Homo sapiens: one gene and its partners. The protein of the gene in region 4 purifies or fractionates together with the protein of the main gene of each other region. This does not show direct contact. Each region holds a gene or a part of one and is shown on either strand. Other genes may lie near its edges.

Evidence for each region.
Region 1: the proteins of TCEAL4 (region 4) and SLC35F6 purify together in Homo sapiens (affinity purification with mass spectrometry; one large-scale study listed by BioGRID and IntAct). This does not show direct contact.
Region 2: the proteins of TCEAL4 (region 4) and IFRD1 purify together in Homo sapiens (affinity purification with mass spectrometry; one large-scale study listed by BioGRID and IntAct). This does not show direct contact.
Region 3: the proteins of TCEAL4 (region 4) and ACTL8 purify together in Homo sapiens (affinity purification with mass spectrometry; one large-scale study listed by BioGRID and IntAct). This does not show direct contact.
Region 5: the proteins of TCEAL4 (region 4) and CAMSAP3 purify together in Homo sapiens (affinity purification with mass spectrometry; one large-scale study listed by BioGRID and IntAct). This does not show direct contact.
Region 6: the proteins of TCEAL4 (region 4) and SPTLC1 purify together in Homo sapiens (affinity purification with mass spectrometry; one large-scale study listed by BioGRID and IntAct). This does not show direct contact.

The regions. Positions count from the first base shown.
Region 1 is NC_000002.12:26,776,382-26,781,283, forward strand, and holds the end of SLC35F6 (solute carrier family 35 member F6 precursor), read left to right. Parts: coding exon 1-101; intron 102-1,660; coding exon 1,661-2,130; 3' UTR 2,131-4,850; downstream 4,851-4,902. UniProt on the Homo sapiens protein: Involved in the maintenance of mitochondrial membrane potential in pancreatic ductal adenocarcinoma (PDAC) cells. Promotes pancreatic ductal adenocarcinoma (PDAC) cell growth. May play a role as a nucleotide-sugar transporter.
Region 2 is NC_000007.14:112,470,590-112,475,491, forward strand, and holds part of IFRD1 (interferon-related developmental regulator 1), read left to right. Parts: intron 1-1,629; coding exon 1,630-1,758; intron 1,759-2,176; coding exon 2,177-2,272; intron 2,273-4,552; exon of another isoform or gene 4,553-4,646; intron 4,647-4,840; coding exon 4,841-4,902. UniProt on the Homo sapiens protein: Could play a role in regulating gene activity in the proliferative and/or differentiative pathways induced by NGF. May be an autocrine factor that attenuates or amplifies the initial ligand-induced signal.
Region 3 is NC_000001.11:17,820,368-17,824,884, reverse strand, and holds part of ACTL8 (actin-like protein 8), read right to left. Parts: intron 1,901-4,517; 5' UTR 1,877-1,900; coding exon 1,529-1,876; intron 1-1,528.
Region 4 is NC_000023.11:103,583,380-103,588,641, reverse strand, and holds TCEAL4 (transcription elongation factor A protein-like 4), read right to left. Parts: upstream 3,128-5,262; 5' UTR 3,018-3,127; coding exon of another isoform or gene 2,882-3,017; intron 2,784-2,881; exon of another isoform or gene 2,515-2,783; coding exon of another isoform or gene 2,341-2,514; intron 1,994-2,340; coding exon of another isoform or gene 1,967-1,993; coding exon 1,319-1,966; 3' UTR 913-1,318; downstream 1-912. UniProt on the Homo sapiens protein: May be involved in transcriptional regulation.
Region 5 is NC_000019.10:7,608,455-7,613,356, forward strand, and holds part of CAMSAP3 (calmodulin-regulated spectrin-associated protein 3), read left to right. Parts: intron 1-2,021; coding exon 2,022-2,161; intron 2,162-2,245; coding exon 2,246-2,339; intron 2,340-2,422; coding exon 2,423-2,477; intron 2,478-2,640; coding exon 2,641-2,714; intron 2,715-3,062; coding exon 3,063-3,132; intron 3,133-3,232; coding exon 3,233-4,709; intron 4,710-4,902. UniProt on the Homo sapiens protein: Key microtubule-organizing protein that specifically binds the minus-end of non-centrosomal microtubules and regulates their dynamics and organization.
Region 6 is NC_000009.12:92,041,762-92,046,663, forward strand, and holds part of SPTLC1 (serine palmitoyltransferase 1), read right to left. Parts: intron 4,293-4,902; coding exon 4,238-4,292; intron 1-4,237. UniProt on the Homo sapiens protein: Component of the serine palmitoyltransferase multisubunit enzyme (SPT) that catalyzes the initial and rate-limiting step in sphingolipid biosynthesis by condensing L-serine and activated acyl-CoA (most commonly palmitoyl-CoA) to form long-chain bases.

The DNA of each region.
Region 1 (4,902 bases), on a different chromosome or scaffold from region 4:
GATCATCATGGCCCAGATCATCGTTGCCATCCAGATGGTGCTAGAGGAGAAGTTCGTCTACAAACACAATGTGCACCCACTGCGGGCAGTTGGCACTGAGGGTGTGTGTGGGCACAGGGGCCTGGAAGGAGTGGGGTAGAAGGGAGCCTGGGGAGCTGAGCACAGGACAAGGTGCCAGGGTTCACTTGTGGGGGGTGAACTTCCTGCCCCGCCTTGCCTTCCAGATGTGTTTTGACAAGTCTTCTGACACCTGCTGTGTCAGGAACTAGAGGAGACCAAGGACAGAGATGAATGAGATGCAAGCCCTTCAGAGGAGGTGACCAGCAGGAAGAAAGGGCAGTCAGTGAATTCAAGTTTGGACCACTTGTGCTCAACTGATGTCTCATTGGCCATGCCTATCTGAGTCTCTCAGGGCAGGGAGGGTGGCATTCGAGCTGCAAATTTCAACAGGCAGTAGTAGGAGCAGCTCCAAACAGAGCAAAGGCACAGGGGACTGGATGTGAATTTGAAAACCAGTGAGGAATAATTTTGAGTGTGGCCAGGTGCGGTGGCTCATACCTGTAATCCCAGCACTTTTGAGAGACCAAAGCGGGTGGATCACTTGAGGTCAGGAGTTTGAAACCAGCCTGCCCAACATGGCAAAACCGTCTCTACAAAAAATACAAAAATTAGCTGGGCGTGGTGGCGCATGCCTGTAGTCCCAGCTACTCAGGAGACTGAGACAGGAGAATCGCCTGAACTGGGGGAGCAGAGGCTGCAGCAAGCCGAGATTGCGCCACCGCACTCCAGCCTGGGCAACAGAACGAGACTCCATCTCAAAAAATAATAATTTGAGTGCAGTATAGGTTTGATGTTGGGGAAATAATCAGGAATTAAGTAGGTCAGGGTCATGTCATTAGAGAACTTTACCATCAGGCAAGTAGATTTAGACTTTAAATGACGGAGGAATCACTGAAAGTTTTTGAGCAGGGAAGTAAGTATCAAAATTATGAGATTAGCAAGATACAGCTGCGCTTTCAAAGAATGTCCTGGGGGCTAGTGCCTGTTGGGGAGCAGCTCTTGTCTGGCCCCCGGTGAGCTAAGGGACTTAGGCAGAATGTGAATTAGCTATATCACTGAGCATGCAGTCTATTTCCACTCATTTCTGTTTTCTAGCAAGACCTTAATGAGTGAAGCAGTGCATGGACTTACCTTCTGGCGCAAGCTCCTTGTCACAGACCAGTAACACACTGAACTAGAAAGCTGTGTTTTTCCAAACTTGTGAAAATAATGTAGTCAGTTGCAGCTGGCAGTTCTTTTTTTAAATGAATAGAATTTTTAAATATCAGAGCATTGTATACTGTAAGGGTAATGTTTTTATGAGTGTGTGTGTGTGTGTGTGTCCATGAACCTGTGCACACGTGTACTGGGTCACAATATAAAATGTATTTCTTACTCTTGATCCAGTCAAAAAAACCCTGAGTAAAAGTGGAGAAGGGACAGCTAGAACCCATCTAATAGGCCACAAGCTCCTGATGAGAGACTGAGGGACGTGAAAGGAGGGAGCTGGCATGAGGACCACTGGGAGGGAATGACCCGAGATCAGAGGAGGCTAAGCCGGTGGGCTGTGCTGGGGGTCTGGGGGAAGGTGGAGAGTGTAACTGTTTCCTCTACTCCCCAGGCCTCTTTGGCTTTGTGATCCTCTCCCTGCTGCTGGTGCCCATGTACTACATCCCCGCCGGCTCCTTCAGCGGAAACCCTCGTGGGACACTGGAGGATGCATTGGACGCCTTCTGCCAGGTGGGCCAGCAGCCGCTCATTGCCGTGGCACTGCTGGGCAACATCAGCAGCATTGCCTTCTTCAACTTCGCAGGCATCAGCGTCACCAAGGAACTGAGCGCCACCACCCGCATGGTGTTGGACAGCTTGCGCACCGTTGTCATCTGGGCACTGAGCCTGGCACTGGGCTGGGAGGCCTTCCATGCACTGCAGATCCTTGGCTTCCTCATACTCCTTATAGGCACTGCCCTCTACAATGGGCTACACCGTCCGCTGCTGGGCCGCCTGTCCAGGGGCCGGCCCCTGGCAGAGGAGAGCGAGCAGGAGAGACTGCTGGGTGGCACCCGCACTCCCATCAATGATGCCAGCTGAGGTTCCCTGGAGGCTTCTACTGCCACCCGGGTGCTCCTTCTCCCTGAGACTGAGGCCACACAGGCTGGTGGGCCCCGAATGCCCTATCCCCAAGGCCTCACCCTGTCCCCTCCCTGCAGAACCCCCAGGGCAGCTGCTGCCACAGAAGATAACAACACCCAAGTCCTCTTTTTCTCACTACCACCTGCAGGGTGGTGTTACCCAGCCCCCACAAGCCTGAGTGCAGTGGCAGACCTCAGCTCTCTGGACCCCTCCTACAGCACTAGAGCTAAATCATGAAGTTGAATTGTAGGAATTTACCACCGTAGTGTATCTGAATCATAAACTAGATTATCATAGTTATCTAGTTTATGAGTCATAAGCTAGATTTGATTCTTCAAAGAAGAAAAGTCAGTGAGCAAATTTAAACCAGAACTAAGCATTATATTTTCTTTTTTTTTTTTTGAGACAGAGTCTCGCTCTGTCGCCCAGGCTGGAGTGCAGTGGCACGATCTCGGCGGCTCACTACAACCTCTGCCTCCCAGGTTCAAATGATTCTCCTGCCTCAGCCTCCCGAGTAGCTGGGATTACAGGTGCATAACACACCTGGGTAACTTTTATAGAGATGGGGTTTCACCATGTTGGCCAGGCTGGTCTCAAACTCCTGACCTCAGGTGATCTGCCTGCCTCGGCCTCCCAAAGTGCTGGGATTACAGGCGTGAGACACCACACCCAGCCATAACTAAGCATTATGTTTTCTAAAACTTCTAAGATCCTCCCTAAACCCGTCTGGAGACATGGGTTTTAGCCCAGACTCTGCCTCAAACTCATTGTAGCTCCCAGCACATTACCCAGTTGCTCTGGGCCTTGGTGTTATGCTCTGGGAAGTAGATGTTGATGCTGTGGCCTTAGTGCCTTCTGGCCCCAGCATTCCATGGGCCTGTGATCTTGACCAACCTGAGAAAACAGTAACAGCCCATCCACTGGAAATACCCCTCTGCCCACAGCACCACCCTTCTGTGCTGTTTTTTTTGTTGTTTGTTTGTTTCTTCTTTTTGAGACAGAGTCTTGCTCTGTTGCCACGCTGGAGTGCAGTGGTGTGATCTCGGCTCACTGCAACCTCCCGCTCCCAGGTTCAAGCAAGTCCCCTGAGTAGCTGGGACTACAGGCGTGTGCCACCACATCCGGCTAATTTTTTGCATTCTTTAATAGAGACGGGGTTTTGCCATGTTGGCCAGGATGGTCTCAATCTCCTGACCTCATGATCCACCTGCCTCAGCCTCCCAAAGTGCTGGGGTTACAGGCATGAGCCACCACGCCCAGCCTTTTTTTTTTTTTTTTTTTTTTCTTGAGAGACAGGGTCTTGCTCTGTCACCCAGGCACAGCTTACTGCAGCCTTGAACTCCTGGGATCAATCAGTCCTCCTGCCTCAGCCTCCCGAGTAGCTAAGACTAACAGGTATGTACCACCATGCCTGGTTTATTGTTTTATTTTTTTGGCAGAGATGGGTCTCACTGTGTTGCCCAGGCTGATCTCAAACTCCTGGCCTCAAGCGATCCTCCCATCTCAGCCTCCCAAAGTGCTGGGATTACAGACCTGAGCCACCACACCTGGGCAACAGAGTGAAACCTGTCCCTGTTTTCCTGCTCTTACTCTCACCTCTGAGGCCTCCTCTGCCTGGAAGAGATTACAGGGAAATTCCAGGCAGCCCTTGTCAATTGTTTTTATGAATTCTTTACCTGTTCCTTTTAAAGACAAGGAAACTGAGGCCCAAAGTTCTAAGTTGTTTGGCAAATGGAGTCTCCTACCCTCAGCTCCTGCAAGGACCTGGGGGACCCCCAGGTCCAGCAGCCACATGATTCTGCAGCAGACAGGGACCTAGAGCACATCTGGATCTCAGCCCCACCCCTGGCAACCTGCCTGCCTAGAGAACTCCCAAGATGACAGACTAAGTAGGATTCTGCCATTTAGAATAATTCTGGTATCCTGGGCGTTGCGTTAAGTTGCTTAACTTTCATTCTGTCTTACGATAGTCTTCAGAGGTGGGAACAGATGAAGAAACCATGCCCCAGAGAAGGTTAAGTGACTTCCTCTTTATGGAGCCAGTGTTCCAACCTAGGTTTGCCTGATACCAGACCTGTGGCCCCACCTCCCATGCAGGTCTCTGTGGGGTCTTTGGGATGGATCTCCTAGGGCTGGGCTGGAAGCCTCATGTACTGTTGTCTTCTAGGTAACCACCCTGAAGAGAAGGGGTGGCATCAGGAACCGCAGGGAACCAAGCAGCCTTTGGTCCAGTGCTGCTCCTTGGAACAGTTGAGTGTGGCCTCAAACCATTCTCCTGGGTAGCTCAGTCATAAAACACCGAATGCCTGCCTCAAAATAGCCTCTGAGGGAAGGGAGCTGTTGACAAGTGAAGCCCTCAGGTTGTGTGGGATTCCAGCAGGTTATTACAGCTTGTGGGGGGAGGGAGGGTCCATTCCACCAGCTTTGAATCCCAGGGTCCCCTCAGCTTCACTGGGCCACAGTGTCTGTCCCAGGAAGAAGCAAATGGACAGTGAGGATGATGGAGAGACTACAGCTGCCTTGTCTAAAACCTGGGATCTTAAAAGTGTTATTTTGGCTTTTATTTTTTAAAAAAAGAAAAGGAAAATTGGCAATTGTATTAATCCATTCTCGAATTGCTGTAAAGAAATACCTGAGACTGGGTAATTTAATTTATAAAGAAAAGAGGTTTAATTGGCTCACAGTTCTGCAGGCTATACAGGAAGCATAGTAGCTTCTGCTTCTGGGGAG
Region 2 (4,902 bases), on a different chromosome or scaffold from region 4:
GAGAAGGAACCTGTGGAGAAAGGAGCATCTGAAAATGTAGTCTGTTCTTAATATCCATGAGGCATTGGTTCCAGGATCCCCCTCAGATACCAAAATTTGAGTATTCAAGTCCCTGATATAAAATGGCATAGTATTTGCATATAACCTATGCACGTATACTTTAAATCATCTGTAGATTACTTATAATACCTAATACAATGTAAGTGCTATGTAAATAGTTGTTATACTTTATTGTTTAGGGAATAGTGGAAAGAAAGAATAGTCTATACATGTTCAGTATAGTTGCAATTTTTTTCTGAATATTTTCAGTCCATGGTTGGTTGAATCCGTGATGCAGAACCAACCAGATATGGAGGATTGACTATATATGTAAAAGATTGAGATTAACCTTGAATTGTGGAGGGACAGAGGTTTGTCTGTTACCAACAGGAAAGAGGATAATAGGTAAGGATGCTGATGACTTTATAGAGGGTTGGTGGGAAACAGTTCTTTCTTGGTGCCTTAATGTTTTCTGAATTAAAGAAGATTGAAATAAGATAACTCTACTGTTATTTATTTATTTATTTTTGAGCTGCTGTTACGCACCAGACGGTCACTGTGTTTGCCTCACATGCATGTCCTCTTTTACACCTCTAATAACCCTCATGCAGTATAGGTAAAGATGGCCCCATTTTACGGGCAAGGGAACAGACTCAGCAAGGTTAAGTTACTTGATGAAATCACAAGCCCGCAAGTTGCATGTCTGTATTAAGTCTAGGGTTGACGGTCTTTTCTATTACATTATATACTTTGTCTGCTGAGTGAGAAGGGGCTGAGGTAGATGTCTGGAAGGCAGGTGGAGTGGTTTTGTCATTCAAGTTCCATCTCCTTTCTCCTCTCCCTGTGGCAGTCAGCTCCTCCCTTCCTGGTTACTCTGACATACTCATGATTTACCAAAGAATTAAGTAGCCAGTTTTCTTCTTAACAAGTTCTGCCACTATTCCAGCTGACTTTTTTTTTAATCCATCTGACTTCTGTTTCTGTGTCATTTGGGCTGCACTCCCATGGTTACACCTTCGAAATGGTCTTCTGACAGAATTGTTTCATCACTAAAATCTTAGATTCTAGTGTTACTTCTTATTTTCTTAGAAACCTAGCCTGAGACCTCTTGGAGCCCTTCTGGTTGCTGGACCTTTCCTTTTTGCTTGGTCAGTTAACCCTATTTACCCTCACTTCCTTCCCTGGATCCCTACTGCCCATCATTTCACCCCCTGCTTGTGGTGCCATTTTGTTTTCCTGACTGTTCTGCAACTTTCTTCCCTCTCCCATCCTAGGCCATTAAAAACACCTGACTTTTTTTAAGTTTGTTGAGAGCTGTTGAAATTTAAAGGTATTCTCAACAATGTGGTTTTTGCCTTAATTGTTACTGAAACTCAGTTGTGCCTTCAAGTTTATCAAAACTAGACCAATTCTACACCCTTACATACAGGATAGCAACAGTTTGTCCACATCTCAGGTATGGCAGTATCAGTTTAAGCCATATTGTTCATTTATCTCAGCATGTATATGACTGTTTAGAAATTGTGTTTACATAAGATCCCTCTGAGCCATTTTAGTGCCTGTGGTAATTTTGGTTCTTCCATTGGTTAGGAACGGGATTTTCCAACAGAAACCATTAAATTTGGTCCTGAACGCATGTATATTGATTGCTGGGTAAAAAAACACACCTATGACACCTTTAAGGAGGTTCTTGGATCAGGGATGCAGTACCACTTGCAGGTAAGTGTCATCCTTTCTACATATTTGCTTTTAAAGTAGGGAGCAGTCTTGAATATAGCTCACTTAATTGGCTTTTGAAATTAATTAGGTATCCAGAGTGCTTCCACATGTTAGAAAACAGTAAACTTGTTTTTGAAAGTAGACTTGAATAAATCTGAAGCTGTTCCTTTTTTTTTCTTTGTATTGTTAAAGTTGGGTGGACGGTTACTGATGTCTGTATGAAAGCAAATAGCTTGACATAGCTGTCTTGGATTCAAGGCATTGAAAACAATTTGCTTTCTATTGAGAAACAGAAAATAAGTGATCTAAGTTTATCTGTGGGTTCCACATAACTTCTGTTAATCAGAGTCACTCTGTCTAGTGAAAAAGAGCTATAATGTTTAATACTGAGCCATACCACCTTTTTCTTTCACATAAGTCAAATGAATTCCTTCGAAATGTATTTGAACTTGGACCCCCAGTGATGCTTGATGCTGCAACGCTTAAAACGATGAAGATTTCTCGTTTCGAAAGGGTAGGTTTTGTTTTTATTTTTAATAAAACTAAGTGCGCCAAAGCTTTGATTCTGTCTAGTGTCAGCAACTTAGCTGTGTCTACCTATATGTGGAGTTTTAGTTTTTCATGATGCTTCACATAGAATAGCTGTACTAAAGATACAGAAAGCATTTAGAGTGTGGGGGGCGTGTGTGTGTGTGTGTGTGTGTGTGTGTGTGTGTGTGTATATATGTGTCAGCCTGGGTGACACGAGTGGGACCTTGTCTCAAAAGCAAAACAGAGAAAAGAATATTGCTGCTTGTTTGCCCATTAGGTGTATTTCTTTCATTTTATGAAACATATTTTGACAACACGTTAAAATTTAATATGTACATATATATTTTACGTATAATTCTATCTTAATATAGGAACGGTGTTCATTATTTGTTTCTTTTTATTCTTTGGAGTTTTTATGTTTAAGAATAAGTATTTACATAGTCCTTTTGTATCAGATAATAGCCTGCTAAGTGAAGTACCAGACTCGTTTTACAAATGAGGAAACTTAAGAGAGTTAAATAGTAATTAATATCATTTTTACTTAACATTTCTTTTTTTTTTTTTGAGATGGAATCTTGCTCTGTCACTCAGACTGGAGTGCAGTGGTGCAATCTCGGCTCACTGCAACCTCTGCCTCCCAGGTTCAAGTGATTATCCTGCCTCAGCCTCCTGAATAGCTGAGATTACAGGTGTGCATTACCACACCTGGCTAGTTTTTGTATTTTTAGTAGAGACAGGGTTTTGCCATGTTGGCCAGGCTAGTCTCGAACTCCTGACCTCAGGTGATCCACCCACTTTGGCCTCCCAAAGTGCTGGGATTACAGGCATGAGCCACCATGACCAGCCTGCATTTCAAAAATCCTTAATTTATGTATTTTTTTTTGTGCTGAGATGAAATTCATATAACAGACTATTTTAAAGTATACAGTTCAGTGGCACTTATTACATTCATGATGTTGTACAACTCTAGTTCCAAAACATTATCACCTCAAAAGAAAACCTTCTGTTCATTAGCAGTCACTTCCCTTGTGCTACCCCCCGCCACTGGCAACCGCTAATCTGCTGTCTCTGGATTTACTTTTTCTGGAGATTTCATACAAATGGAGTTATATAGCATGCAACCTTTTGTGTCTGGCTTTTTTCATTTAGCATAATGCTTTGGAGGTTCATTCATGTTGTAGCATGAATTCAGAGAGCTTTATTCTTTTTTGTGGCAGAATAATATTCCATTGTATGGATATATATCACATTTTGTTTATCCATTTTAACAGTTGATGGACATTTGGGCTGTTTGCATCTTTTGGCCGTTGTGAATAGTGTTGCTCTGAACATTCACATACAAAATTTTTTTTGAAAGGCTCTTTGCAATTTTGGGAGGTATTACCTAGGAGTGGAATTGTGCTGGGTCAGATGATAGTTTTACATTTAACTTTCTCAGAAACCACCAAACTCTTTTCCATAGCTGCTGCACCAGTTTACATTCTCATCAGCAATGTAGAAAGAAAGGTTCCAGTTTCTCCACATCCTCACTAATAATTATTTTAATTATAGCCATTCTGGTGGGTGTGAAGTGTTTAATTACATTTTATAGAACCTGGATATTTTATCAGTTTTATATCCACATAATTGTTTCTTGTACGGCATTTTAAGTTTTTTTTAAGAAACATTAATATTTTTACATACTTCTCTCTTTTGAATAATTTTTTTGAAGAAATCCCCTGCATAATGTATTGCCAAATTACTTTCCAAAGTTACTCTTATATTGGAGACGATATTTAAATTGTCTCCAGCAATGAATGAAGGCATGTAGCTGTTACACAAAGATTTGACACCATTGAGTTTTATAATTTAAAAAATGTGTTTATTTAATTGATATTAAAATGGCACTTCATCACTTTTTTCCTTGTTCTAATTGACAGCCAAGTAGGACTATTTTCTGCATTAGTCATGATTTGTCTTTTCTTGGATGAAACAATGTTGATGTCCATTTTTCACTGTTGGTTTTTGAAATCGTCTAACTTTCTTGGCGTTTTACAATTTGATTAGTACTTTTCTTAATATGGAATAGCCATTAACTCTTTATTTATTTATTTTTTTTGAGACGGAGTCTCGTTCTGTTGCCCAGGCTGGAGTGCAGTGGCGTGATCTCGGCTCACTGCAACCTCTGCCTCTCGGGTTCAAACGATTCTCCTGCCTCAGCCTCCCGAGTAGCTGGGACTACAGGCATGTGCCACCATGCCTGGCTAATTTTTTGTATTTTTAGTAGAGACGGGATTTCACCGTGTTAGCCAGGATGGTCTCAATCTCCTGACCTCGTGATTCGCCCACCTCGGCCTCCCAGAGTGCTGGGATTACAGGTGTGAGCCACCTTGCATGGCCCCTGTTAACTCTTTGTTTTTCTCCTTCATTCTTTGTGTGTGTTTTATAAACATTTAAATGTTTATAGGGTCAAATTAGTTCATTTCTTTTCTTTGTGACTTTTACCCTTTTTCTGTTTTGTAAGAATATCTTAAGTCTTACTGATGCACGTTTTTCCTTTTTTTCATTTTAGCATTTATATAACTCTGCAGCCTTCAAAGCTCGAACCAAAGCTAGAAGCAAATGTCGAGATAA
Region 3 (4,517 bases), on a different chromosome or scaffold from region 4:
TTCTCAAAATAGCAGCCAAGGTCCTCTTTTTCAAATAGAAAATCAGATACAACTCCCCCATTTAAAACTCTCCATTTAAAACTCCCCAGGAACTTCCTATTCACTTAGAGCAGTGGCTGGCAAGCATTTTCTGTAAAGGGATAGACAGTAAGGGTTGCCAAATTCAGCAAATAAAACTACAGGATGCCCAGTTACATGTGAATGTCAGATCAATAATAAATAATATTGTAGTGTAAGTATGCCCCATGCAATATGAAACATACTTAAATACTAAGACATTATTTGTAATTTATCTGAAACTCAAGTCTAACTAGGCATCACGTATTTTACCTAGTAAACCTACAATAGTAAATATTTTAGCCTTTAACTTGATGTATGGTCTCAAACAGTCTCTGCTGCAACAACTTAACTCAGATGCTGTCGTATGAAAGCACACTCTGCCAAACCCTAAATATCAGAATTCCTGTTTTGTCTTCATGTTTGGAAAGTTTTTATTTAAAAAATAATAATAGGGCTTTACCTACCAGGCAATGAGCATATGTTCTTTTTTCTTTCCTCTCTCTTTCTATCTTACATAACATATAAATGAATGTGTGTGGCTATGTTCCAATAAAACTTTATTTACAAAATAGGTGGTGGGCCGGATTTGGCTCACTGGGTTGCCAATCCTTGATTTAAAGTAGAATCCAAGCACTCCCCACAGCCTACCAGGCCTACAAGGCCCAGCCTCCTCCAACCTCACCATCCTATTTGCCTCTTGCCGCTCTTGCTGCTGAAATCACCTCCGTCAGAGAAGCCCTTCCTGAGCGCTCTCTTCAAACAGGTTCCCCACCCCCAACAGTCCACCATGATCCCATTTCATTATGGTTCTAGAACTCATCACTACCTGGAATTATTTCTTAACCCCTTCATGGAAGCTCTCTGAGGGCCAGAACATGGCCTGTATCAGCAATTATGGAATCCATAAGCAAATATTCCACGTCTCCCTGGTAACCCCCTTTCCACCAAGCACGTTGGTTGCTGCATGTCCGTCTGCAGGTGGGGCCTCCGTGAGCTCCCCTGCTTAGTGGCACACCAGGCATTCACTAGGTTCTTGGGAAATGTTTGTGGGGCAATTTGTTGGTTTCTGTTGGGTTTTTTTGTTTGTTTGTTTTTTTGAGACAGGGCCTTGCTCTGTTGCCCAGGCTAGAGTGCAGTGTCGTGATCTCAGCTCACTCTATTCTCGACCTCCCGGGCTCAACTGATCCTCCCACCTCAGCCTCCCAGGTAGCTGGGACCACACCTGGCTAATTTTTGTATTTTTTATAGAGACAGGGGTCTCACTATATTGCCCAGGCTGGTCCTGAACTCCTGGGCTCAAGCAATCTGCCTGCCTGGGAGTCCCAAAGTGTTGGGATTACAGGCATAAGCCACCACACCTGGTTGGCAATTTATCTTAAAAAGCAGAATTCCTGGTGCCCAATCAGTCCAGACATAGTGTCAGTCTGTTTCCCGCTCCCGAGTGGGAGCAGGCCCCGGCAGGCCTCACCTCCAGCATCTTCTTTCGGTCCGCAGGCTCCCTCAAGGGTGTCTCCGTGATGATCACAGGGGGGACCTCTTGCTCCCGTCTGTGGTTCTCCAACACAAATGACCAGAGGTACTGCACACCCTCCCAGTTGAGGATGCGGCCCCGCTCGATGGGGTAGCTAAAGGTGTCAGGATGGCAAATGTCGATGCCCAGGCTCACACGCCTACGGGCATAGCTGGGGCCAGGGTTCTCCTTGCACGGTAGGTAGTTCACGATGTTCGGGAAGACCATCTGAGGCTCATTCCAGCCGGCCGTGCCAGCCTTCAAAAAGCCAGACCCGTGGTCAATGATAACGGTTCTTGCAGCCATGGCGGAGGCAGAGGTGGGTGGGACCTGCGGAAGCAAAGGATGGGGTTAGTTGTGCAGGCAGCCTAGGCCACCATAAGCAGCTTCCCCCTCTACCCAACAGTCAAACCTCAGGCTCCCCCTGAAGCTTGTCCACTGCCCCTTCCAAGCCTTTACACAAGCCATTACCTGTGCCTGGAACACTCCCCCCATCCCAAATTCCCAACCATCCTACCAGGCTCCCTTAATGGGCCACATCCAGGAAGTGGCCCCCACCCCTCCTGCCCACTCAGCTTCTCCCACTGCACTTTGCACACACATGTATCCTGCTAGGTGAGCACTTCTGCCCCACAATCCAACTCTGCAAAGGGTTGGATTACTCTTGGCAGACTCAGCAAGAAGCTTGCCACTTGGGAAGTCCTTGTAGACACTGGCTGCCTGATTAGAGGGCACAAGGAACATGAAACATCAGCCTCAGAGCCACCACCTTCAGTAATAACAATGTCATAGCAACAGCAGCAGAAGCAGGCATTGTATTAGTGAGCATGGCAGCAGCTACAGGGACCATTTTCTGGAGAACCTACTCTTTCTCCAGTACTACAAGGAATGCTTTGCATGTTAGGTTGGACTAGGTAAAACTGTCATTTGTGTCTGTGAAAATGGTCAGAGATCAGCAATTTCACATGGTTTCACTTGATACATGGACTCATTTAATATTTGCCACGATGTATAAGGCAGGTGACGTCCACTTTACAGATGAAGAAACTGAGGCACAGGGGGTAAGATTACTTTCCTAGGGGTATACAACTAACAAAAACAGAGCTAAGAGTCAAACCCAACCCAGACTGCAAAGGCGATGTCCTGAGCATCAAGCATGCGAGGCACCAGGCATTAGGTGTTAAACATGAGCTAAGCATCTAACACCTGATGATAAGGGAGACTATCAGGAAGACTCCATGATTGTGGTTAGTTTCTTCATCTGTAAAGTGGGGAGAACAGCAGCCCCCCTGCTGAAAAGGTAGGTATGGTCACTACCTGATGTTCAGACTTACTCAAAAGCTACAGTAGCCAAGACAATGTGGGAGGTACTGGTAAAAGAATAGTCAAGGCCAGGCACGGTGGTTCACGCATGTAATCTCAGCACTTTGGGAGGCCAAGGCGGCCAGATCACCTGAGGTCAGGAGTTCAAGACCAGCCTGGCCAACATGATGAAACCCCATCTCTACTAGAAGTACAAAAATTAGCTGGTGTGGTAGTGCGCCTGTAATCCCAGCTACTTGGGAGGCTGAGACACAAGAATCGCTTGAAACCGGGAGGCGGATGTTGCAGTGAGCCAAGATTGTGCCACTGCACTCCAGACTAGGCGACAGAGTGAGACTCCATCTCAAAAAGAAAAAAAAGGGAATAGTCACAAACATAGATCCATGGAACAGAAAGTCCAGAAATAGGCCCACACACAAAAAAAGTGTCATTTGCTCTTTGACAAGGTCGAAAAATAATTAAATGGAGAAAGGACAGTCTTTACAACAAATAGCAAAGAACAATTGGATGTCCATATACCAAAAAAAGAACCTTAGCCCATACCTCACACCTTACAAAAAATTAACTTAAAATGGATCACAGAAATAAATGTAAAACCTGAAACCATAAGACTTCTAAAAGAACACCTAGGAGAAACCACGAAGGCAAAGTTTCCTTAGAACATTAGAAGTCTGACCCACAAAAGAACAAATTGATAAACTGGATTTCATCACATTTAGGAACTTTTGTCCTTCCAAAGACGCTATTTACTACAAAGAGAATGAAAAGACAAGCCATAGACTGGGAGAAAATACTTACAAATCATATATTTAATACAGAACTCTCAAAACCCAGTAATAGGAGAAACAAGCCAATTTTTTTTTTTAATGGGCAAAAGCTTTGAAGAATCACTTCACCAAAGAAGATAGATGGATGGCACATAAACACATGAAAAGGTATTCAGCATTATTACTCATTAGGAAAATGCCAGTTAAAATCACAAGATATTTCTGTACACCTACCTATTAGAATGACCGAAATTAAGGCCCACCCTTACCAAGTGCTGACAAGGAAGTGGAGAAATTGGAAATCCCATGCACAGCTGGTGGGAATGGCAAATGACACCAGCACTTTGGAAAATGGTGTGGCAGTTTCTTAAAAAGTTCAGCATACTTTGGGAGGCCAAGACGGGCAGATCACCTGAGGTCAGGAGTTCAAGACCAGCCCGACCAACATGGAGAAACCCTGTCTCTACTAAAAATACAAAAACAAAAAAAATTAGCTGGGCGTGGTGACACATACCTGTAATCCCAGCTACTGGGGGGGCTGAGGGAGGAGATTCCCTTGAACCCAGGAGGTGGAGGTTGCGGTGAGCCAAGATCGCACCATTGTACTCCAGCCTGGGTGACAAGAGCAAAACTCCATCTCAAAAAAAAAAAAAAAAGTTCAACATACACCTACCGTATGACCTGCATTTCCACTCTTACGTATTTACTCAAGGGAAATGAAAACGTACGTTCACACAAAAACCTTTATGCACATACGTATAGTAGCCAGATAGCCTTATTCCTAACTGCCAAAAATAGAAACCAACCCAAAGTCCTTCAGCTAGGGAATGAATACACAAATCTCCATTCAGTGGAAT
Region 4 (5,262 bases):
AATACTGTAAGGAAATAAAAAGCTACTCAAGAGCCAGGGGGAAAAAATCACATAGGTAGATGGGTCTGTTGAAATAGTAAAGCAGGGCTTAACAGAAATTTCCTGGGAGACAATTCCTAAGAAAAAAGTGTTAGCAGACTAGAGATTAACAAATGAGAATAGCACACCATCTCGTCACTCAGCTTTTCCTCCTGGCTCAATCTCCACTATCTAAATCCGGTGGAAACGGCTATATGCAAAAATATACACAAATCAACAAAAAACATGGAAAGCAGTGTTTTGTAAAAACTTCATAAAACATCAAGGCCCAAGTGACAATTGGGTACTAACAACCTGAGTTAGGATAATTCTATTGTAGGTAGAGAGGGAATTCTCCACTTTTCTGTTGGGACAGTGTTGCTTAGTCCATCATGGTCTTCAGCCCACCAGCAGCAGCTGGGGCCTTAGGAGGGTGCAGGATCCATGAGAAGGGGCACACTACCTTTCAAGTATGGCATTACCCAGGAAGAGTGGCACCCATCTCTCAGCTGTCTGGACTTATTTCTGGGCACAGGTGAGACCCTCCTTCAGCCCTTCCCAAGTATCTGACTGGGCACTGGTTCTGCTAGTGCAAGGGGAGAGAGTAGGAGCCAGCCTAACACAGCTCACACACTCAATACCTCATTTGATCTTCTCCACATGTCTAGGCTAATTTTATCCCCATTTCACAGATGTCAAGGCTGTCCCTTACAGCAATGGCTCTGTAATAACCATCGAGTTGACTCCTCCAGCTTCCAGTCCCAGAGGTAATGCAACTTTTACCTATCATTTTATGTCCTCACAAGAATTTTAAGTATATCCACTGTCTTTATAAGTTCACTGGGCAGTTCATTTGAATGCTTATTCAAATGAATGAAATTCAAATATTCACTGTTTTCCAATACTTTATATTTTATTATTTTTATGACTAAAGAAATCTGTTTTTAGGAGAAAAATGGACAGATGAACAAAAAAGAACAGAAAAAATCACCCAGAGATAACCACTGTTAATCTTTTAGTGGACACAGCTTTCAGAATTGTTTTCTATACTATATTACTAGGTAAGTATCTTTGTAGTTTTACAAAAATGTACTGATGCCATATATTTGGTTCTGCAAGTTGTGTTTTTTAATTTTACAATGCACCATCAACATTTTTTCCATGTAACAGATGAACATTTCCTACTGAGAACACTGCATTGCAGATAGGTCAAAAGGCTGCTAGCAACAGGAGGGATGCCTAAAGTAAAGTATTACCGTAACGTTAAAGCACATGGCCTGGTAAATGCCTGCCAGGGACACTACACATAAGGAATGTCTTCAATGTCCCTTCGTGGGGCCCTGCAGCCACCCCTGAATTCCCTTGGACCTCTAGGGTAGAAGGGGTCCTGTAAATTTCTTTGCATCCACAAAAACGCCCCCAATTTCTGTTTGCTTTTTCTCTTCTCATCCTGCACCTTAGCCATATTGTCAAATTCTCTTATCATGTCCTCATTGCTGAAATTCATATCATGTATGGCCTCTTTATACTCCTTGAGGTAATGAGCCAGCCCCTTATTAGTTTTTCTTTTGGCTTTCCTGGGTACATCATCCTCAGCTGGGCGCTTTCCTGCAGCCCTTGTTTCACTCCCTGGCTCTCCTTCACTCTCTGGCTTTCCCTCTATCTCTGGTTTTCCCTCTCTCTCTGATCCTCCCTCCATCTCTGACTCTCCCTCCCTCTCTGACTTTCCTTCTTTTGCCTCTCCCTCACTCTCTGGCTTTCCTTTATCCTTTAACATTTCCTCATCTCCTGTTTTGCCCTTGTTTTCTGTCTTTCCCTCGTTTTCTAACTTCTTGTCTTCCAGAGTACAAGTTACTTCTGGCTTTCTCTCGTCTTGTGGCTGTTCTTCATTTTCCATCTTTCCTTGGTTTGAAGCCATTCCTTCATTTTCACTGTAGAGTTTTTCCATGTCGAGATTTCCCCTCCTTTTCCTGTCCTGGGGGATGGGGGTGGAGGAAAGAGGAGACAAAGAGGAGACATGGGAGACTGAGTGCATGGGGTGGAATGCAGGTCTGGATAGTACTTGCATCTCACCCCTGATGAGGGTTCCCCTAAGCTGGCCAGGCCTCCAAGAGGGCCTTCTGCCCACCACGTAGCCCGCCACTCCTCCCACACACGTGAGCCAGCCATTGCCTGACAGGCTCTGCCACTTTCTCTGCACTGGTTCAGCCTGGTAAGGTGTGTGTTCATGTGGGTGGGGGAATGGGAAAGGCCCCAATTCGGCCCTGGCCGGGCCCTCCACACTCTCAACCCTTGTGGGCCCCTGTCCATGCAGCCCCGTACTTTCACGGACCTGCGGGGATTCTGGACAGGTTGCTCCTCCTTTTCAGGCTTCGCAGAGCGCTGGGAACAACAGACGCGCAGACCTGCAGACAGACAGGAGACAGGGGCAGGGTCTGCGCGCTCAGCGGGCTCACACGGACGCGGTTCCCTTTCCTGAGTCCAGGCCCTTCTCATCCAACGTTTTCCTCCCCTACCTCCGCCGCACCCCAGCCGCCATTTCTTTCCAGGCCTCGGGCACCAAATCAGGATGCTTTCCAAACTAATTTTGGGTCTCTGTGCCCTTCTTCCTCAGAGGCAACTCTCCTCCCCAGCCTCGCGGTCAACGTTTTTCTCTACGCACGGGAACGGCAGATGGGGTTTACTTCCACTGTCTCACTACTGGGGCGGCCCCAGCCCACCATCTCCGGCTCCAAAATGGACGGAGGGCAGAGAAGAGGATGTGCCTGGAAAGCGAGCATGGATACTTGGGGGTGCTCGCCTTCCTCACCCTCTGCCCACTGCCTACGTGCTCCCCCTCAGCCACCCCTAGCCGTTTTCCCACCGCCATCTCTGTCCACACTCGGGCCAGCTTCCCTCGACTCGACCCGACCCCACCCCCAGCCTTTCCCCCTGCCGTACCCGTTCCCCTTCCGCCATTCCAGTGTTCCGCTGGCAGCGTGGAAGGCCCGCACACTGACCTGGAAGAAGCTGGACCAAGAATTAGGAGCCCAGGAACCGGAGCAGACGAGACCCAGCCGCGGGGACAGAGGGCAGGCACTCGGACCGGTGCCTACATCTGCGCCCGTGCAGATCACGTGAATGCCGCAGCCCAGGAGTTCCACCGCCCCACGCCCCGCCTCCTAGCCAGCCGCTTCCAGCCACCCACCACCTCTCCAGCAGGTACCCTCTTACCTCCCTGGGCCCTTTTGTCCTTTTTTTCTTGTTAAGAAATTAATCAAAGAAAGAATCTTAATGAAAATCACAGTTTTTTTTTTAATGAGTTGGGCGGTCCAGAAGAGGAGTCTTGATAATGTTGCTCTTAAATTCCACTGAAATAACGTAGACCCACCCGATAAAATCGTATGAATGTGAACTTAAGTACTGTATAAAGAATAGAATATTGCCCTTTAGAAAAAACTTAAGAAAAATTTTCCAAAATAAATGAAATTGTCCCTTTTTCCTGACATGTACAAACATAAATTTTCAAATGAATAAAAAATAAAGTTATATTTGAAGCAAAATAAAACAACGATTAATTTATCTTAAGTGAGAAACTGAATATACAATGACCAGACCACATACGAAAATAGAACTGTGACCCACAACCTTTGCTGCAAGCAGCTCAAAAAGCCAAAGTATAGCATCTGCAGAAATGTTCAGGACTTTAATCAATTTGCTAGCCTTTCTGGCCTTTTTAATTTTTTTGACCTGATGACAAACAAGAAAAACCCAAATATGAACCCATATTCAATCACATAGGATGCTTGCCTCTAGTTGGCCTGCCTCTAGCTTCCTCACGTCAACAACATCCAATCAGAGCGTAGCTGAAGTCTTTGTGTTTTTGTTTTCCACTATAAAGCTTTCCCACTCCCCTGCCTGTCTTTGAATCTCTGCCAGACTCAAATGATGGTGGCTTGACTTCCTTGCTATAAAAAAGCTGTGAATAAGTAGCACTTGTTTGTTCTCTTATGGGTAGACTCCGTTTATCTCCACATAAGCTTTTGGTGTGGAAGGCCTTTATAGTCACGTGCCACTTAATAACGGGGATATGTTCTGAGAAATGCATCAGGCAATTTCGTGGTGGTGCGAACATCGTAGAGTGTAGTTATACAAATCTATATGGTATAGCCTACTACACTCCTAGGCTACATACTATAGCCTATCGTATTCTATGCTGTCCGTTGTCGTTGACCAATCGATACGCAGTGTGACTGTACAACAAAGAGACAAATGCTGATAGATTAGATTACATGAAAATTTTTAACAGATTTGTTGAAGGACTGGGGACACATGCACTCTCCCCTGCTCTTATTGAATATGTTGGTGAAATTTTTCTGAAGATCAACTTTGTAAATTATTTAAAAATAAAAATATCGGCCAGGCACGGTGGCTCACACCTGTAATCCCAGCGCTTTGGGAAGCTGAGGCGGGTGGATCACCTGAGGTCAGGAGTTCAAGACCAGCCTGACCAGGATGGTGAAACCCCATCTCTACTAAAAATACCAAAACTAGCTGGGCGTGGTGGTGGGCGCCTGTAATCCCAGCTACTCGGTAGGCTGAGGCAGGAGAATTGCTTGAACCCGAGAGGCAGAGGTTGCAGTGAGCCGAGATCACGCCATTGCACTCCAGTCTGGGCGACAGAGTGAGACTTCGTCTCAAAAAAAAAAATTAATATTTGATCTTTTGTGCCAGTAATTTCACTTCTAATAGTTACCCACAATGATAATTTTCTTTCTTCAACTTTTATTTTAAGCTCAGGGGCACATGTGCAGGATGTGAAGGTTTGTTATGTAGATAAACATGTGCCATGGTGGTTTGCTGTATAGATCATCTCATCACCCAGGTATTAAGCCTGGCAGCCACCAGCTATTCTTCCTTATGCTCTCCCTCCCTGCCCCCAGCAGGCCCCTGTGTGTGTTGTTCCCTGACATGTGTCCATGTGTTCTCATCATTCAGCTCCCAGTGAGAACACATGGTGTTTGGTTTTCTGTTCCTGCATTAGTTTGCTGAGAATAATGGCTTCTAGCTCCATCCATGTGCCTGCAAAAGACATGATCTCATTCCTTTTTATGGCTGCATAGTATTCCATGGTGTATATGTACCACATTTTCTTTATCTAGTCTATCATTGATGGGCATTTCAGTTGATTCCATATCTTTGCTATTGTGATTAGTGCTGCAATGAACATACGGGTGCATGTATCCTTATAACAGAATGATTTAT
Region 5 (4,902 bases), on a different chromosome or scaffold from region 4:
ATATAAACCTCTCTGTGCTTCCAGGAGTTCATTCCTGCAGCAGATGAAACGTATGGAGTGTGGACTGTGTGCCAGACCTTGTTTTAGGCACTGGGGATCCAGCCAGAATAGAGACACACTCCCCACTTCACAGACGGCTCTAGCTGGGAGAGAAAGATACTAAGTTTATCCAAAAGTACTTTTTTTTTTTTTTTTTTGAGACGGGAGTCTTGCTCTGTTGCCCAGGCTGGAGTGTAATGGCATGATCTCGGCTCACTGCAACCTCCACCTCCCAGGTTCAAGCCATTCTCCTGCCTCAGCCTCCTGAGTAGCTGGGACTACAGCCACACGCCACCACGCCTGGCTAATTTTTGTATTTTTAGTAGAGACGGGTTTCACCGTGTTGGCCAGGCTGGTGTCGAATTCCTGACCTCAAGTGATCTGCCTACCTTGGCCTCCCTAAGTGCTGGGATTGCAAGTGTGAACCACTGCACCCGGCCCAGAAGTACTTTTTGCATACTGGGTAGTCCTAAAGGCAATGGGTGGTCAGAAAAAGCTTTTTTTAAAAAAACTCTTTTTTCTTTTTTATTAAAAAAAAAATTATAGGGCTGGGTGTGGTGGCTCACGCCTGTAATCCCAGCAGTTTGGGAGGCCGAGGCGGGTGGATCACGAGGTCACGAGTTCAAGACCAGCCTGGCCAGGATGGTGAAACCGTCTCTACTAAAAATACAGAAATTAGCCGGGTGCGGTGGCGGGCGCCTGTAATCCCAGCTACACAGGAGGCTGAGGCAGGAGAATCGCTTGAACCCAGGAAGTGGAGGTTGCAGTGAGTCAAGACCATGCCATTGCACTCTAGCCTGGGCAACAGAGCGAGACTCCATCTCAAAAAAAAAAAAAAAAAAGTATAAAATAGAGATGGGGTCTTGCTATGTTGCCCAAGCTGGTCTTGAATCCCTGGGCTCAAACATCCTCCCACCTCAGCCTCCCCAAGTGCTAAGATTACAGGTGTGAGCCACCACACCTGGCCCGGAAAAGCTTTTTGAGCTGAGGTCTTGGGGGAGAGTGTTCTAGAAAGATGCAAAGGCCTAAGGCAATAGTCACCAACTTTTTGGCTCCAGGGACCGGTTTTGTGGAAGACAATTTTTCCACAGATGGAGGCAGGGAGGTGGTCTTGGGATAATTCAAGCACGTTAATCTTTATTATGTACTTTATATCTAATACGTTGTAACATAGAATGAAATAATTCTACAACTCATCATCATGGGGAACCAGTGGGAGCCCTGAGCTTGTTCCTGCAACTAGACGGTCCCAGCTGGGGGTGATGAGAGACAGTGACAGATCATCAGGCATTCGATTTTCATAAGGAGGGTGCAACCTAGATCCCTCACACGCCAGGTTCACAATAGGGTTCGCGCTCCTGTAAGAATCGAATGCCGCCGCTGATCTGACGGAAGCGGGGTTCGGGTGGTCCTGCAAGTGACGGGGAGCGGCTGTAAATACACTCACTGCAGCTCACCTGCTGTACGGTTCAGTTCCTGACAGGCCACGCCCCGGGGGTTAAGGACCCCCGGCCTAAGGACGGTCTATCATATAATTCACCTCGGCCGGGTACAGTGGCTCACGCCTGTAATCCCAGCACTTTGGGTGGCTGAGGCGGCCGGATCATGAAGTCAGGAGATCGAGACCATCCTGGCTAACACGGTGAAACCCCATCTCTACTAAAACCACAAAAAATTAGCCTGGTGTTGTGGCACACTCCTGTAATCCCAGCTACTCAGGAGGCTGAGGTGGGAGAATCACTTGAACCCGGGAGGCAGAGGTTGCAGTGAGCTGGGATTGCGCCACTGCACTACAGCCTGGGTGACAGAGCGAGACTCCATCTCAAAAAAAAAAAAAAAAGAATTCACCTCTCGAAGGGCACCTGGCAGAAGCTGGGCTCATAGGAGGTCTTCCGTGTGTGGGGGACTGCTGGTCCCTGGCTTCCCTGGGGCCCCATCCTCCTCCTCATAGAGTTGGGGACCCACTCCTCCTGTCCCCACAGAGGTGTGCTTGAAGGACCCCATGTCTGTGGCGGACAGCCTGTACAACCTCCAGCTCGTGCAGGATTTCTGTGCCTCTCGCCTTCCTCGTGGCTGCCCCCTGTCCCTTGAGGACTTGCTGTACGTCCCACCGCCACTCAAGGTAAGGCCATCCTGGGGCCTCCTGGGCCGAGGCGGGCATCTGGGGCCAGGGGTCCCGTCTGCTGACCCGGCCTCCCACCTCCAGGTCAACTTGGTGGTGATGCTGGCCGAGTTGTTCATGTGTTTTGAGGTGCTCAAGCCCGACTTTGTGCAAGTGAAGGACTTGCCCGATGGTCACGGTGAGGCCCTGGGGGCCTGGGGGCCGGGTCGGGGGCGGGTGGGAGAGCCAAACCCCCGCCTGACCCTCTTCTCTGTACTGCAGCTGCCTCCCCCCGGGGCACTGAGGCCTCCCCACCTCAGAACAACAGCGGCAGTAGGTACGCTCCCCACACTGGGCGAGTCTCTGGCATTGTGGGTGTGGGGCTCCATGTCTGCCTTGCTGAGCACTGGGACGCAGCTGGGTGATGCTGTTGTCTCCCCCCGGGGAGAGGCGGAGGAGGAGGTGGGGGTCCTGAGGCTGAAGTACGTCTCTCCGTACAGTTCTCCTGTCTTCACCTTCCGCCACCCGCTTCTGTCATCTGGTGGCCCCCAGTCCCCACTCCGAGGATCCACAGGTGAGGAGGGGGTAGGTGGCTTCTGTCACGGGGGACCCCCCCACTCACAGACTGCCCCAGTGGGCCTCATGTTGTCTCCTCGTGAGCCTTCCAATAGCCTCTCCATCAGATCCCCCTTGGGCATCCCAAAGTGACCCCCAGAATGGCCTCCCCAGTGGCCCCACAGTACCCCGTAGTGACAGTAAATGGCCCCGGGTATCTGTTTCTGGAAACCTCTGGTCTCACTAGACCACATAATGAGCCATCAGTGACTCACCCAATGACCTTGCAGAGGTTGTCCCCAGATGCTGGCTGACCCCACTCAGGGTTCCCAGGGTCCCCATAGTGACCACTCATCGCCTCCCCCAGGCTCCCTGAAGTCTTCCCCGTCCATGTCCCATATGGAGGCCCTGGGCAAGGCCTGGAACCGGCAGCTCAGGTGAGTAGACCTCACAGGCCAGGGTAGGGGGTGGAGCAGGCTAGGGCGGGTTGGGGCCGAGGCTGGTCCCAGGGGCTGACCCCTCCCTCCGGCCGCCCAGCCGTCCCCTCTCCCAGGCTGTGTCATTCAGCACCCCCTTTGGCCTGGACAGCGACGTGGATGTCGTCATGGGAGACCCTGTGCTCCTCCGCTCTGTGAGCTCGGACAGCCTGGGCCCCCCGCGTCCCGCGCCGGCCAGGACCCCCACCCAGCCACCCCCGGAGCCTGGTGACCTGCCCACCATCGAGGAAGCTCTGCAGATCATCCACAGTGCCGAGCCCCGGCTCCTCCCAGATGGGGCGGCCGACGGCAGCTTCTACCTCCACTCCCCTGAGGGGCCCTCCAAGCCATCCCTGGCCTCCCCCTACCTGCCCGAGGGGACCTCCAAACCACTGTCCGACAGGCCCACCAAAGCACCAGTGTACATGCCACACCCCGAGACCCCCTCGAAACCATCTCCCTGTCTGGTGGGGGAGGCATCGAAACCGCCAGCCCCATCCGAGGGGTCCCCGAAGGCGGTGGCTTCGTCCCCAGCAGCCACCAACTCCGAGGTGAAAATGACCAGCTTTGCAGAACGCAAGAAACAGCTGGTGAAGGCAGAGGCTGAGGCCGGAGCGGGGTCCCCCACGTCCACTCCGGCCCCGCCGGAGGCCCTGAGCTCGGAGATGAGTGAGCTCAGCGCCCGGCTGGAGGAGAAACGCAGAGCCATCGAGGCTCAGAAGCGACGGATTGAGGCCATATTCGCCAAGCACCGCCAGCGGCTGGGCAAAAGCGCCTTCCTGCAGGTGCAGCCGCGGGAAGCCTCTGGGGAGGCGGAAGCAGAGGCGGAGGAGGCCGATTCCGGTCCAGTCCCTGGTGGGGAGCGGCCCGCAGGCGAGGGCCAGGGTGAGCCAACCTCACGGCCCAAGGCAGTGACCTTCTCGCCAGACCTGGGCCCGGTGCCCCACGAGGGGCTGGGGGAATACAATCGAGCGGTCAGCAAGCTGAGTGCCGCCTTGAGCTCGCTGCAGCGGGACATGCAGAGGCTCACGGACCAGCAGCAGCGGCTCCTGGCCCCGCCCGAGGCCCCCGGATCCGCCCCACCACCTGCTGCGTGGGTCATCCCTGGCCCCACGACGGGGCCCAAAGCTGCATCCCCCAGCCCCGCCCGGCGAGTCCCGGCCACCCGGCGCAGCCCTGGGCCCGGGCCCAGCCAGTCACCCCGCAGCCCGAAACACACGCGGCCAGCGGAGCTGCGGCTGGCACCCTTGACCAGGGTGCTTACGCCACCCCACGACGTAGACAGCCTCCCCCACCTGCGCAAGTTCTCGCCGAGCCAGGTGCCCGTGCAGACGCGCTCTTCCATCCTCCTGGCGGAGGAGACGCCCCCCGAGGAGCCAGCCGCCCGGCCGGGCCTCATCGAGATCCCGCTGGGCAGCCTGGCAGATCCCGCCGCCGAGGACGAGGGAGACGGGAGCCCCGCTGGTGCTGAGGATTCCTTGGAGGAGGAGGCGTCTTCGGAGGGGGAGCCCCGGGTGGGGCTGGGGTTCTTCTACAAGGTGAGTCCCCGAGCAGGTGGCTGGAGGGTCCTGGGCCTGGGGCGGGGGCGGGTGGGGGCGGGGGGAGGTGGACAAACCCACTATTGGATGAATAGGGCTTTACTGAAGGATGGGTGGGCGGGTGGGGGATAGATGGGGAGCCAGGTATGAATGGACAGAACAGGTGTGAGTGGCTGGGTAAGGCCTCCATGGG
Region 6 (4,902 bases), on a different chromosome or scaffold from region 4:
ATATTATAATGAAGTAACGGTTTTCTCAAGAATGCAAGGATGGTTTAACATCAGAAAATATTTCAATGTAATTCAGCCATAAGACAAATTTATGATTTACCTTAATAGATGTAAAAAAAATGGATAAAGTTCAACGTCTATTTATGATTTTAAAAAAAGGCCTTCAAATTTAGGAATCATTTAGCCAGGTGCAGAGGTACATGCCTGTAGTCCCAACTAGTTGGAAGGTGAAGGCAGGAGGATTGGTTGAGTCCAGGAGTTTGAGGCTATAGTGTGTTGACTATATCTGTGAATAGCCACTGCACTCCAGCCTGGGCAACATAGCACAATCCTGTCTCTTAAAAAAACCACAAAACAAAACAAAACTAGGAATAATTCAATAAAAGCTACTCACCAAAAACCCATAGCATGATGTTTTATACTTAATGAAGAAGTGCTTCTATACTGGGAATAAGGAAGGAATGTTTGCTATTATTGCCACTGTTCAATACAAATTAGGGACTCAGACCAAAGCAATAAAATAAGAAAATGAACTAAGACGCAAAAGCATTAGGAAGGAAAGAGAGAACACCATTATTGCAGATAACAGGACTTCCATGCACATCATCATAACACAATGAAACAATTACTGGAAATACTAAGAGTTTAGAAAGACTCCTGGATATAAGGTCAGTTTAGAGAAAATAATAATATTCTTATGAATCAGCAATAATCAAGTAGAAAATATAACAGAAAAGACAACCCCATTCATAACAGCAACAAAATCTATAGGATGTCTGAAAATTCCCTTTAAAGGTTCCATAAAGGTACAAGGGCTTTATAGGAATTCCATTAAAGGACACAAAGGGAGATTTAAATAGAGAGCTCATGTTCATGGATGACATTTCCCTCCACATTCATCAGAAAATTTAATGCAGTTCCAATTAAGATTCTAGCAATAATTTTGGAGAAACCCATATTCCAAAACAGTGATAAAAACAGACACTAGTGATAAACCTGTATTCCAAAACAGTGATAAAAACAGACAAAATCAAAAGAGTCTGAGGAATGAGCAAATATACCAATGGAATGGAAGAGACAGTTTAAAAACAGATCTAGGTACAAATGGGAACCTGGTATATGATACAGTACTGTCAACCAGTAGGAGAAAGGATGTTTTATACTTAGCCAGATGTTATTCAGAAATTGATCTCAGTAATCTTAAACTGAAATATTCTTCTCTTGACCAATTTCTTTCTCCAGCCACCATCTTGTTTCTTAGTCCCTCTTCAGAGAAAAACTCCTCAAAACAGTCATCTAGGCCGTGTCCACCTGTCTGGAACCTCCTTCAAGCAGGCATTTTACCCCACACTCCCCTGAAACTACTCACCAAGTCATAATACCTCTACATAACGAAGTCAAAGGATCAGTGTTCTGTTATCTGGTCTGGCCTGTCAGCAGCGGCATGTCACAGGCTGACCTCCTACATAAGCAATTTCTTCCCTGGTTTCCAGGACTCTAGGCTCTTCCAGCCTGCCTCTTCCTCACTGGCCACTCTTTCTCAGACTAGTCTTTGCTAGTTTCTGACCTCTTCACACTGAAATGCTTCATATAATATCCATACCCCAAGACTCAAACATTTATCTCTAGCTCAGTACTCTCCCTCACACTTCAGACTTGTATATCCAGCTGCTGCTCTGCACTCCATGTCTGATGGGCACTTTGGGCTTAACATAACCACTGCTGACCTTCCCCAGAAGGTATTTCTCCACAGTTCTGTCCCTCTCACTCATTAGCAACTCTACCTATTTACTCTGACCAAACCCCCTGAGCTCTACCTGGAGTCTTCTCTTTCTCACTCACCCTGCATATGAACTTCTGCTAGATCCAGTGTGCTCTCCCTTCAGAAGATACCCAGAATCCAGACACTTCGCAGGTCATGGCTCCCAACATGGTCAGAGTCACTATCACCTTTCACCTGCGTCAATCTCCTAACTGGTCTCCCTGCTTCTGTTCTTACTGCTGTTCAATGTATTTTTTCACACCATGCAAAAGTAATTTTGCTAGGGTATCAGATAGGCTGTTTCACTTTTTTGCTCAAAACCATGCCAGGGCTTCCTCTGTGTGCCAATGTCCTCATCACGGCTCACAAGTCCCTGTGTGCGGATGGCCCATGACCCAGCCCTCATCTTCCACCAGATTTCCCACTCCTTTCCTCCTGTCACATTGGCCTCTTTGCTATTTTGTTTACTGTTCTCTGTAACCATCTAGATACCAGCACGGTTTGCCCCTGCGACCCTTATGAATGTGTGTTTACTGTGAGGTGCCATGGAGTCTTCCAACTGTGGATACTGAGTAGGCAACTGGGTGTGAGACCTGCAGCTGCAGTGGTCCAGGGTGGTGATACGAAGCTGGGAGCTGTCTCTATACAGGTGTCATGAAACGATGTGGAGCTCCAGGTGTGGGAGAAGGCAATTCTTCAAGAAGGTAATGAGAAGAAAAGAGAAGCACAGACAAAGCCTTGAAGAGCAAGGTGTTGAAAGAAAGCCTTCAGAGGAGACCGAGATGGAGCCATTCAAAGATGTAAAAGGAAATCCAGGCGTGCAGTGTAGCAGAGTCCAAAGAAGGAAAGAGTGGTCACCTGTGCTGAAAACTATGGGGACATCAAGAAGATGAGCTCTGAAGATGGTCCACTGGATTCAGCAGTCAGTGGAGACCTCCACAAAAACAGTCCAGGCGAAGGGCAGTAGCAGAAGCCAGGTCTCAGAGCTGCCAGTGTAAGTGAAGACGTGGAGATGATAGCTACTGAGAGGAGCAAAGACATGGGGAGTTGCAGAGGGAAACGTCAGGTGACAGGCAAGAGGAATTTAAAGTGGACATGACTGCTAATCAAATAACACAAGAAAGGGGACAGGCTGATGACAAAGTAGCAGGGACAAGCAAAGGCACTCAGTCCTTAAAAAAAGGGCCTGTGGTAGTTGGAGCAACATTTACTGGTCTACAGGAGGGAAGACTGGTTCAGATACCCACAGGTGTGTAGATTTGTCAGGAAATATGACAGAGTCCCAAGTGACAGCATAAGGCCAGGCTGTTAGCTAAAAGTGAGGGGAGTGAAGACAGAGGATTAGGAATTTTGGAAAGAAAAAGTGTGATACAGCTGGGGTAAGTGGAGATTAGACTTAGAAAAAGGCAGGTTAACACCATAGAGTGAAAGGCATGTAAGGCTAGCACTGATGCATTTCCAGTGACTCCAATATGCTAGGCTGTGTTGGCATATTAATATTTCACAAACCAATGGAACTGGAACCAATACAAATATATCTCTCTACCATAAATCATGCAAGAACTGCTGTTACTATCACACAGACACACCCAGAACTTTAATGTCTCTGCCCCTTCTTTATCTGGAACAGCTGTGATGTACTCATTTATCAATTGTCCTTTTCTTTCAGTTAAGTCTCCAGTTTCCATATCCGGAACACAGATAGGACTTTCATGACCAAGAAAGCATGTTTAACCTTAGGAAAGGCAAAAAGAAAGACCTCGGGCAATGTGAAATCACTTTATATAAGACCAGAAATGTGCCTGGAGATATCACCAACCTCCATTTTTTTTTTTTTTTAACTACAGAGGAATCTTAAAGAGTGACTCTTCTAGATGACAAGTTAGTGGGTGCAGCACACCAGCATGGCACATGTATACATATGTAACTAACCTCACAATGTGCATATGTACCCTAAAACTTAAAGTATAATAAAAAAAAAAAAAGTGACTCTTGTGTAGTAAAAAAAAAAAAAAAAAAAAAAAAAAAACACTGATAAAATTTCACTTGTTTCTTTTTCTTGTGTTAAAACTTAGTAATTTATTAAAAAGTAACACAGATGGTATGAACCCAGTCATCTAATTACATAATATATAATGGCATCCCTGTGTGTGCAGACATGGAGAGATGCTTCAGTGTTTACCCTGGTTATTTCTGGTGGTAAGATGTTGGGTTGTTATTTTCATCTTTCTATCTTCTGTACTGCTGTAATATTTTATTAATGAGTTTGTTTCATTTTCAGAAAAACAAAGTCACGATTCTTTAAAACAGATGATCTGGTTTTACACAAATAAACCAATGTGAGTGAACTAAGTTTTTGGTTTCTTAGCTGCAATCTGGTCAAACTGACCCAAGCCTAGAAATTTAAAACTTTCCATTAGTTGTTAAGTGTGGTGCAGATAAACTTTATGTTGGTTGAAAATATATAAAACTCACCCTTGTAAAGCTTTATGAATTTGTCCGCACTTTTCCTTCAACACTGCAAAAATACCTAGATGAAAAAAATACGTTTGAGAGTCTATTTGAAACTTATGATAGTACTAACCTAAAAATATTTTTGAAGACCCAGATCAAGTTCATCAATTTAAAATGCTACAAATCCTTCTACATACTAACAGAGCCAAGAACCCATACTCCCCTGAAGGCCCAAGCTTTGTCTCTGGTGCGTGCTAACTGGCCCCTTCTCACCTCAGTATCCCACTTTCAACAAACCTGGAATGATGCTTTCAAGAACAATCAATGCCTCTTGTTCTCATCAAGATCCTAATCTGGCTAAGAATCAAAGGGTACAAATTTATTGCTTATTTCTTTATCCTAAACAATTTGGTAAAAAATCAACTATAGTAAAGTAATTTTTACAATCTTTTCTTGATATTTTCCTTTTTTATTCAAGGAAAATCCCAAAACTAAAGTATCTGATCAGAAGGTAGGCGTGCCAGGCCATCTGAGAAGCAAGCATATGAATGAGCACAGAGACACACATTTTCTGGTTCTCTGAATTAGTATCAGTGATGAAGATTCAGAAATACTGTACCGGGTAGGGCCTGCTGCTCCCTTTCCGTTTTAAGCTTTGCAAAGGTGGCACTGTCATAGCCAAAGGC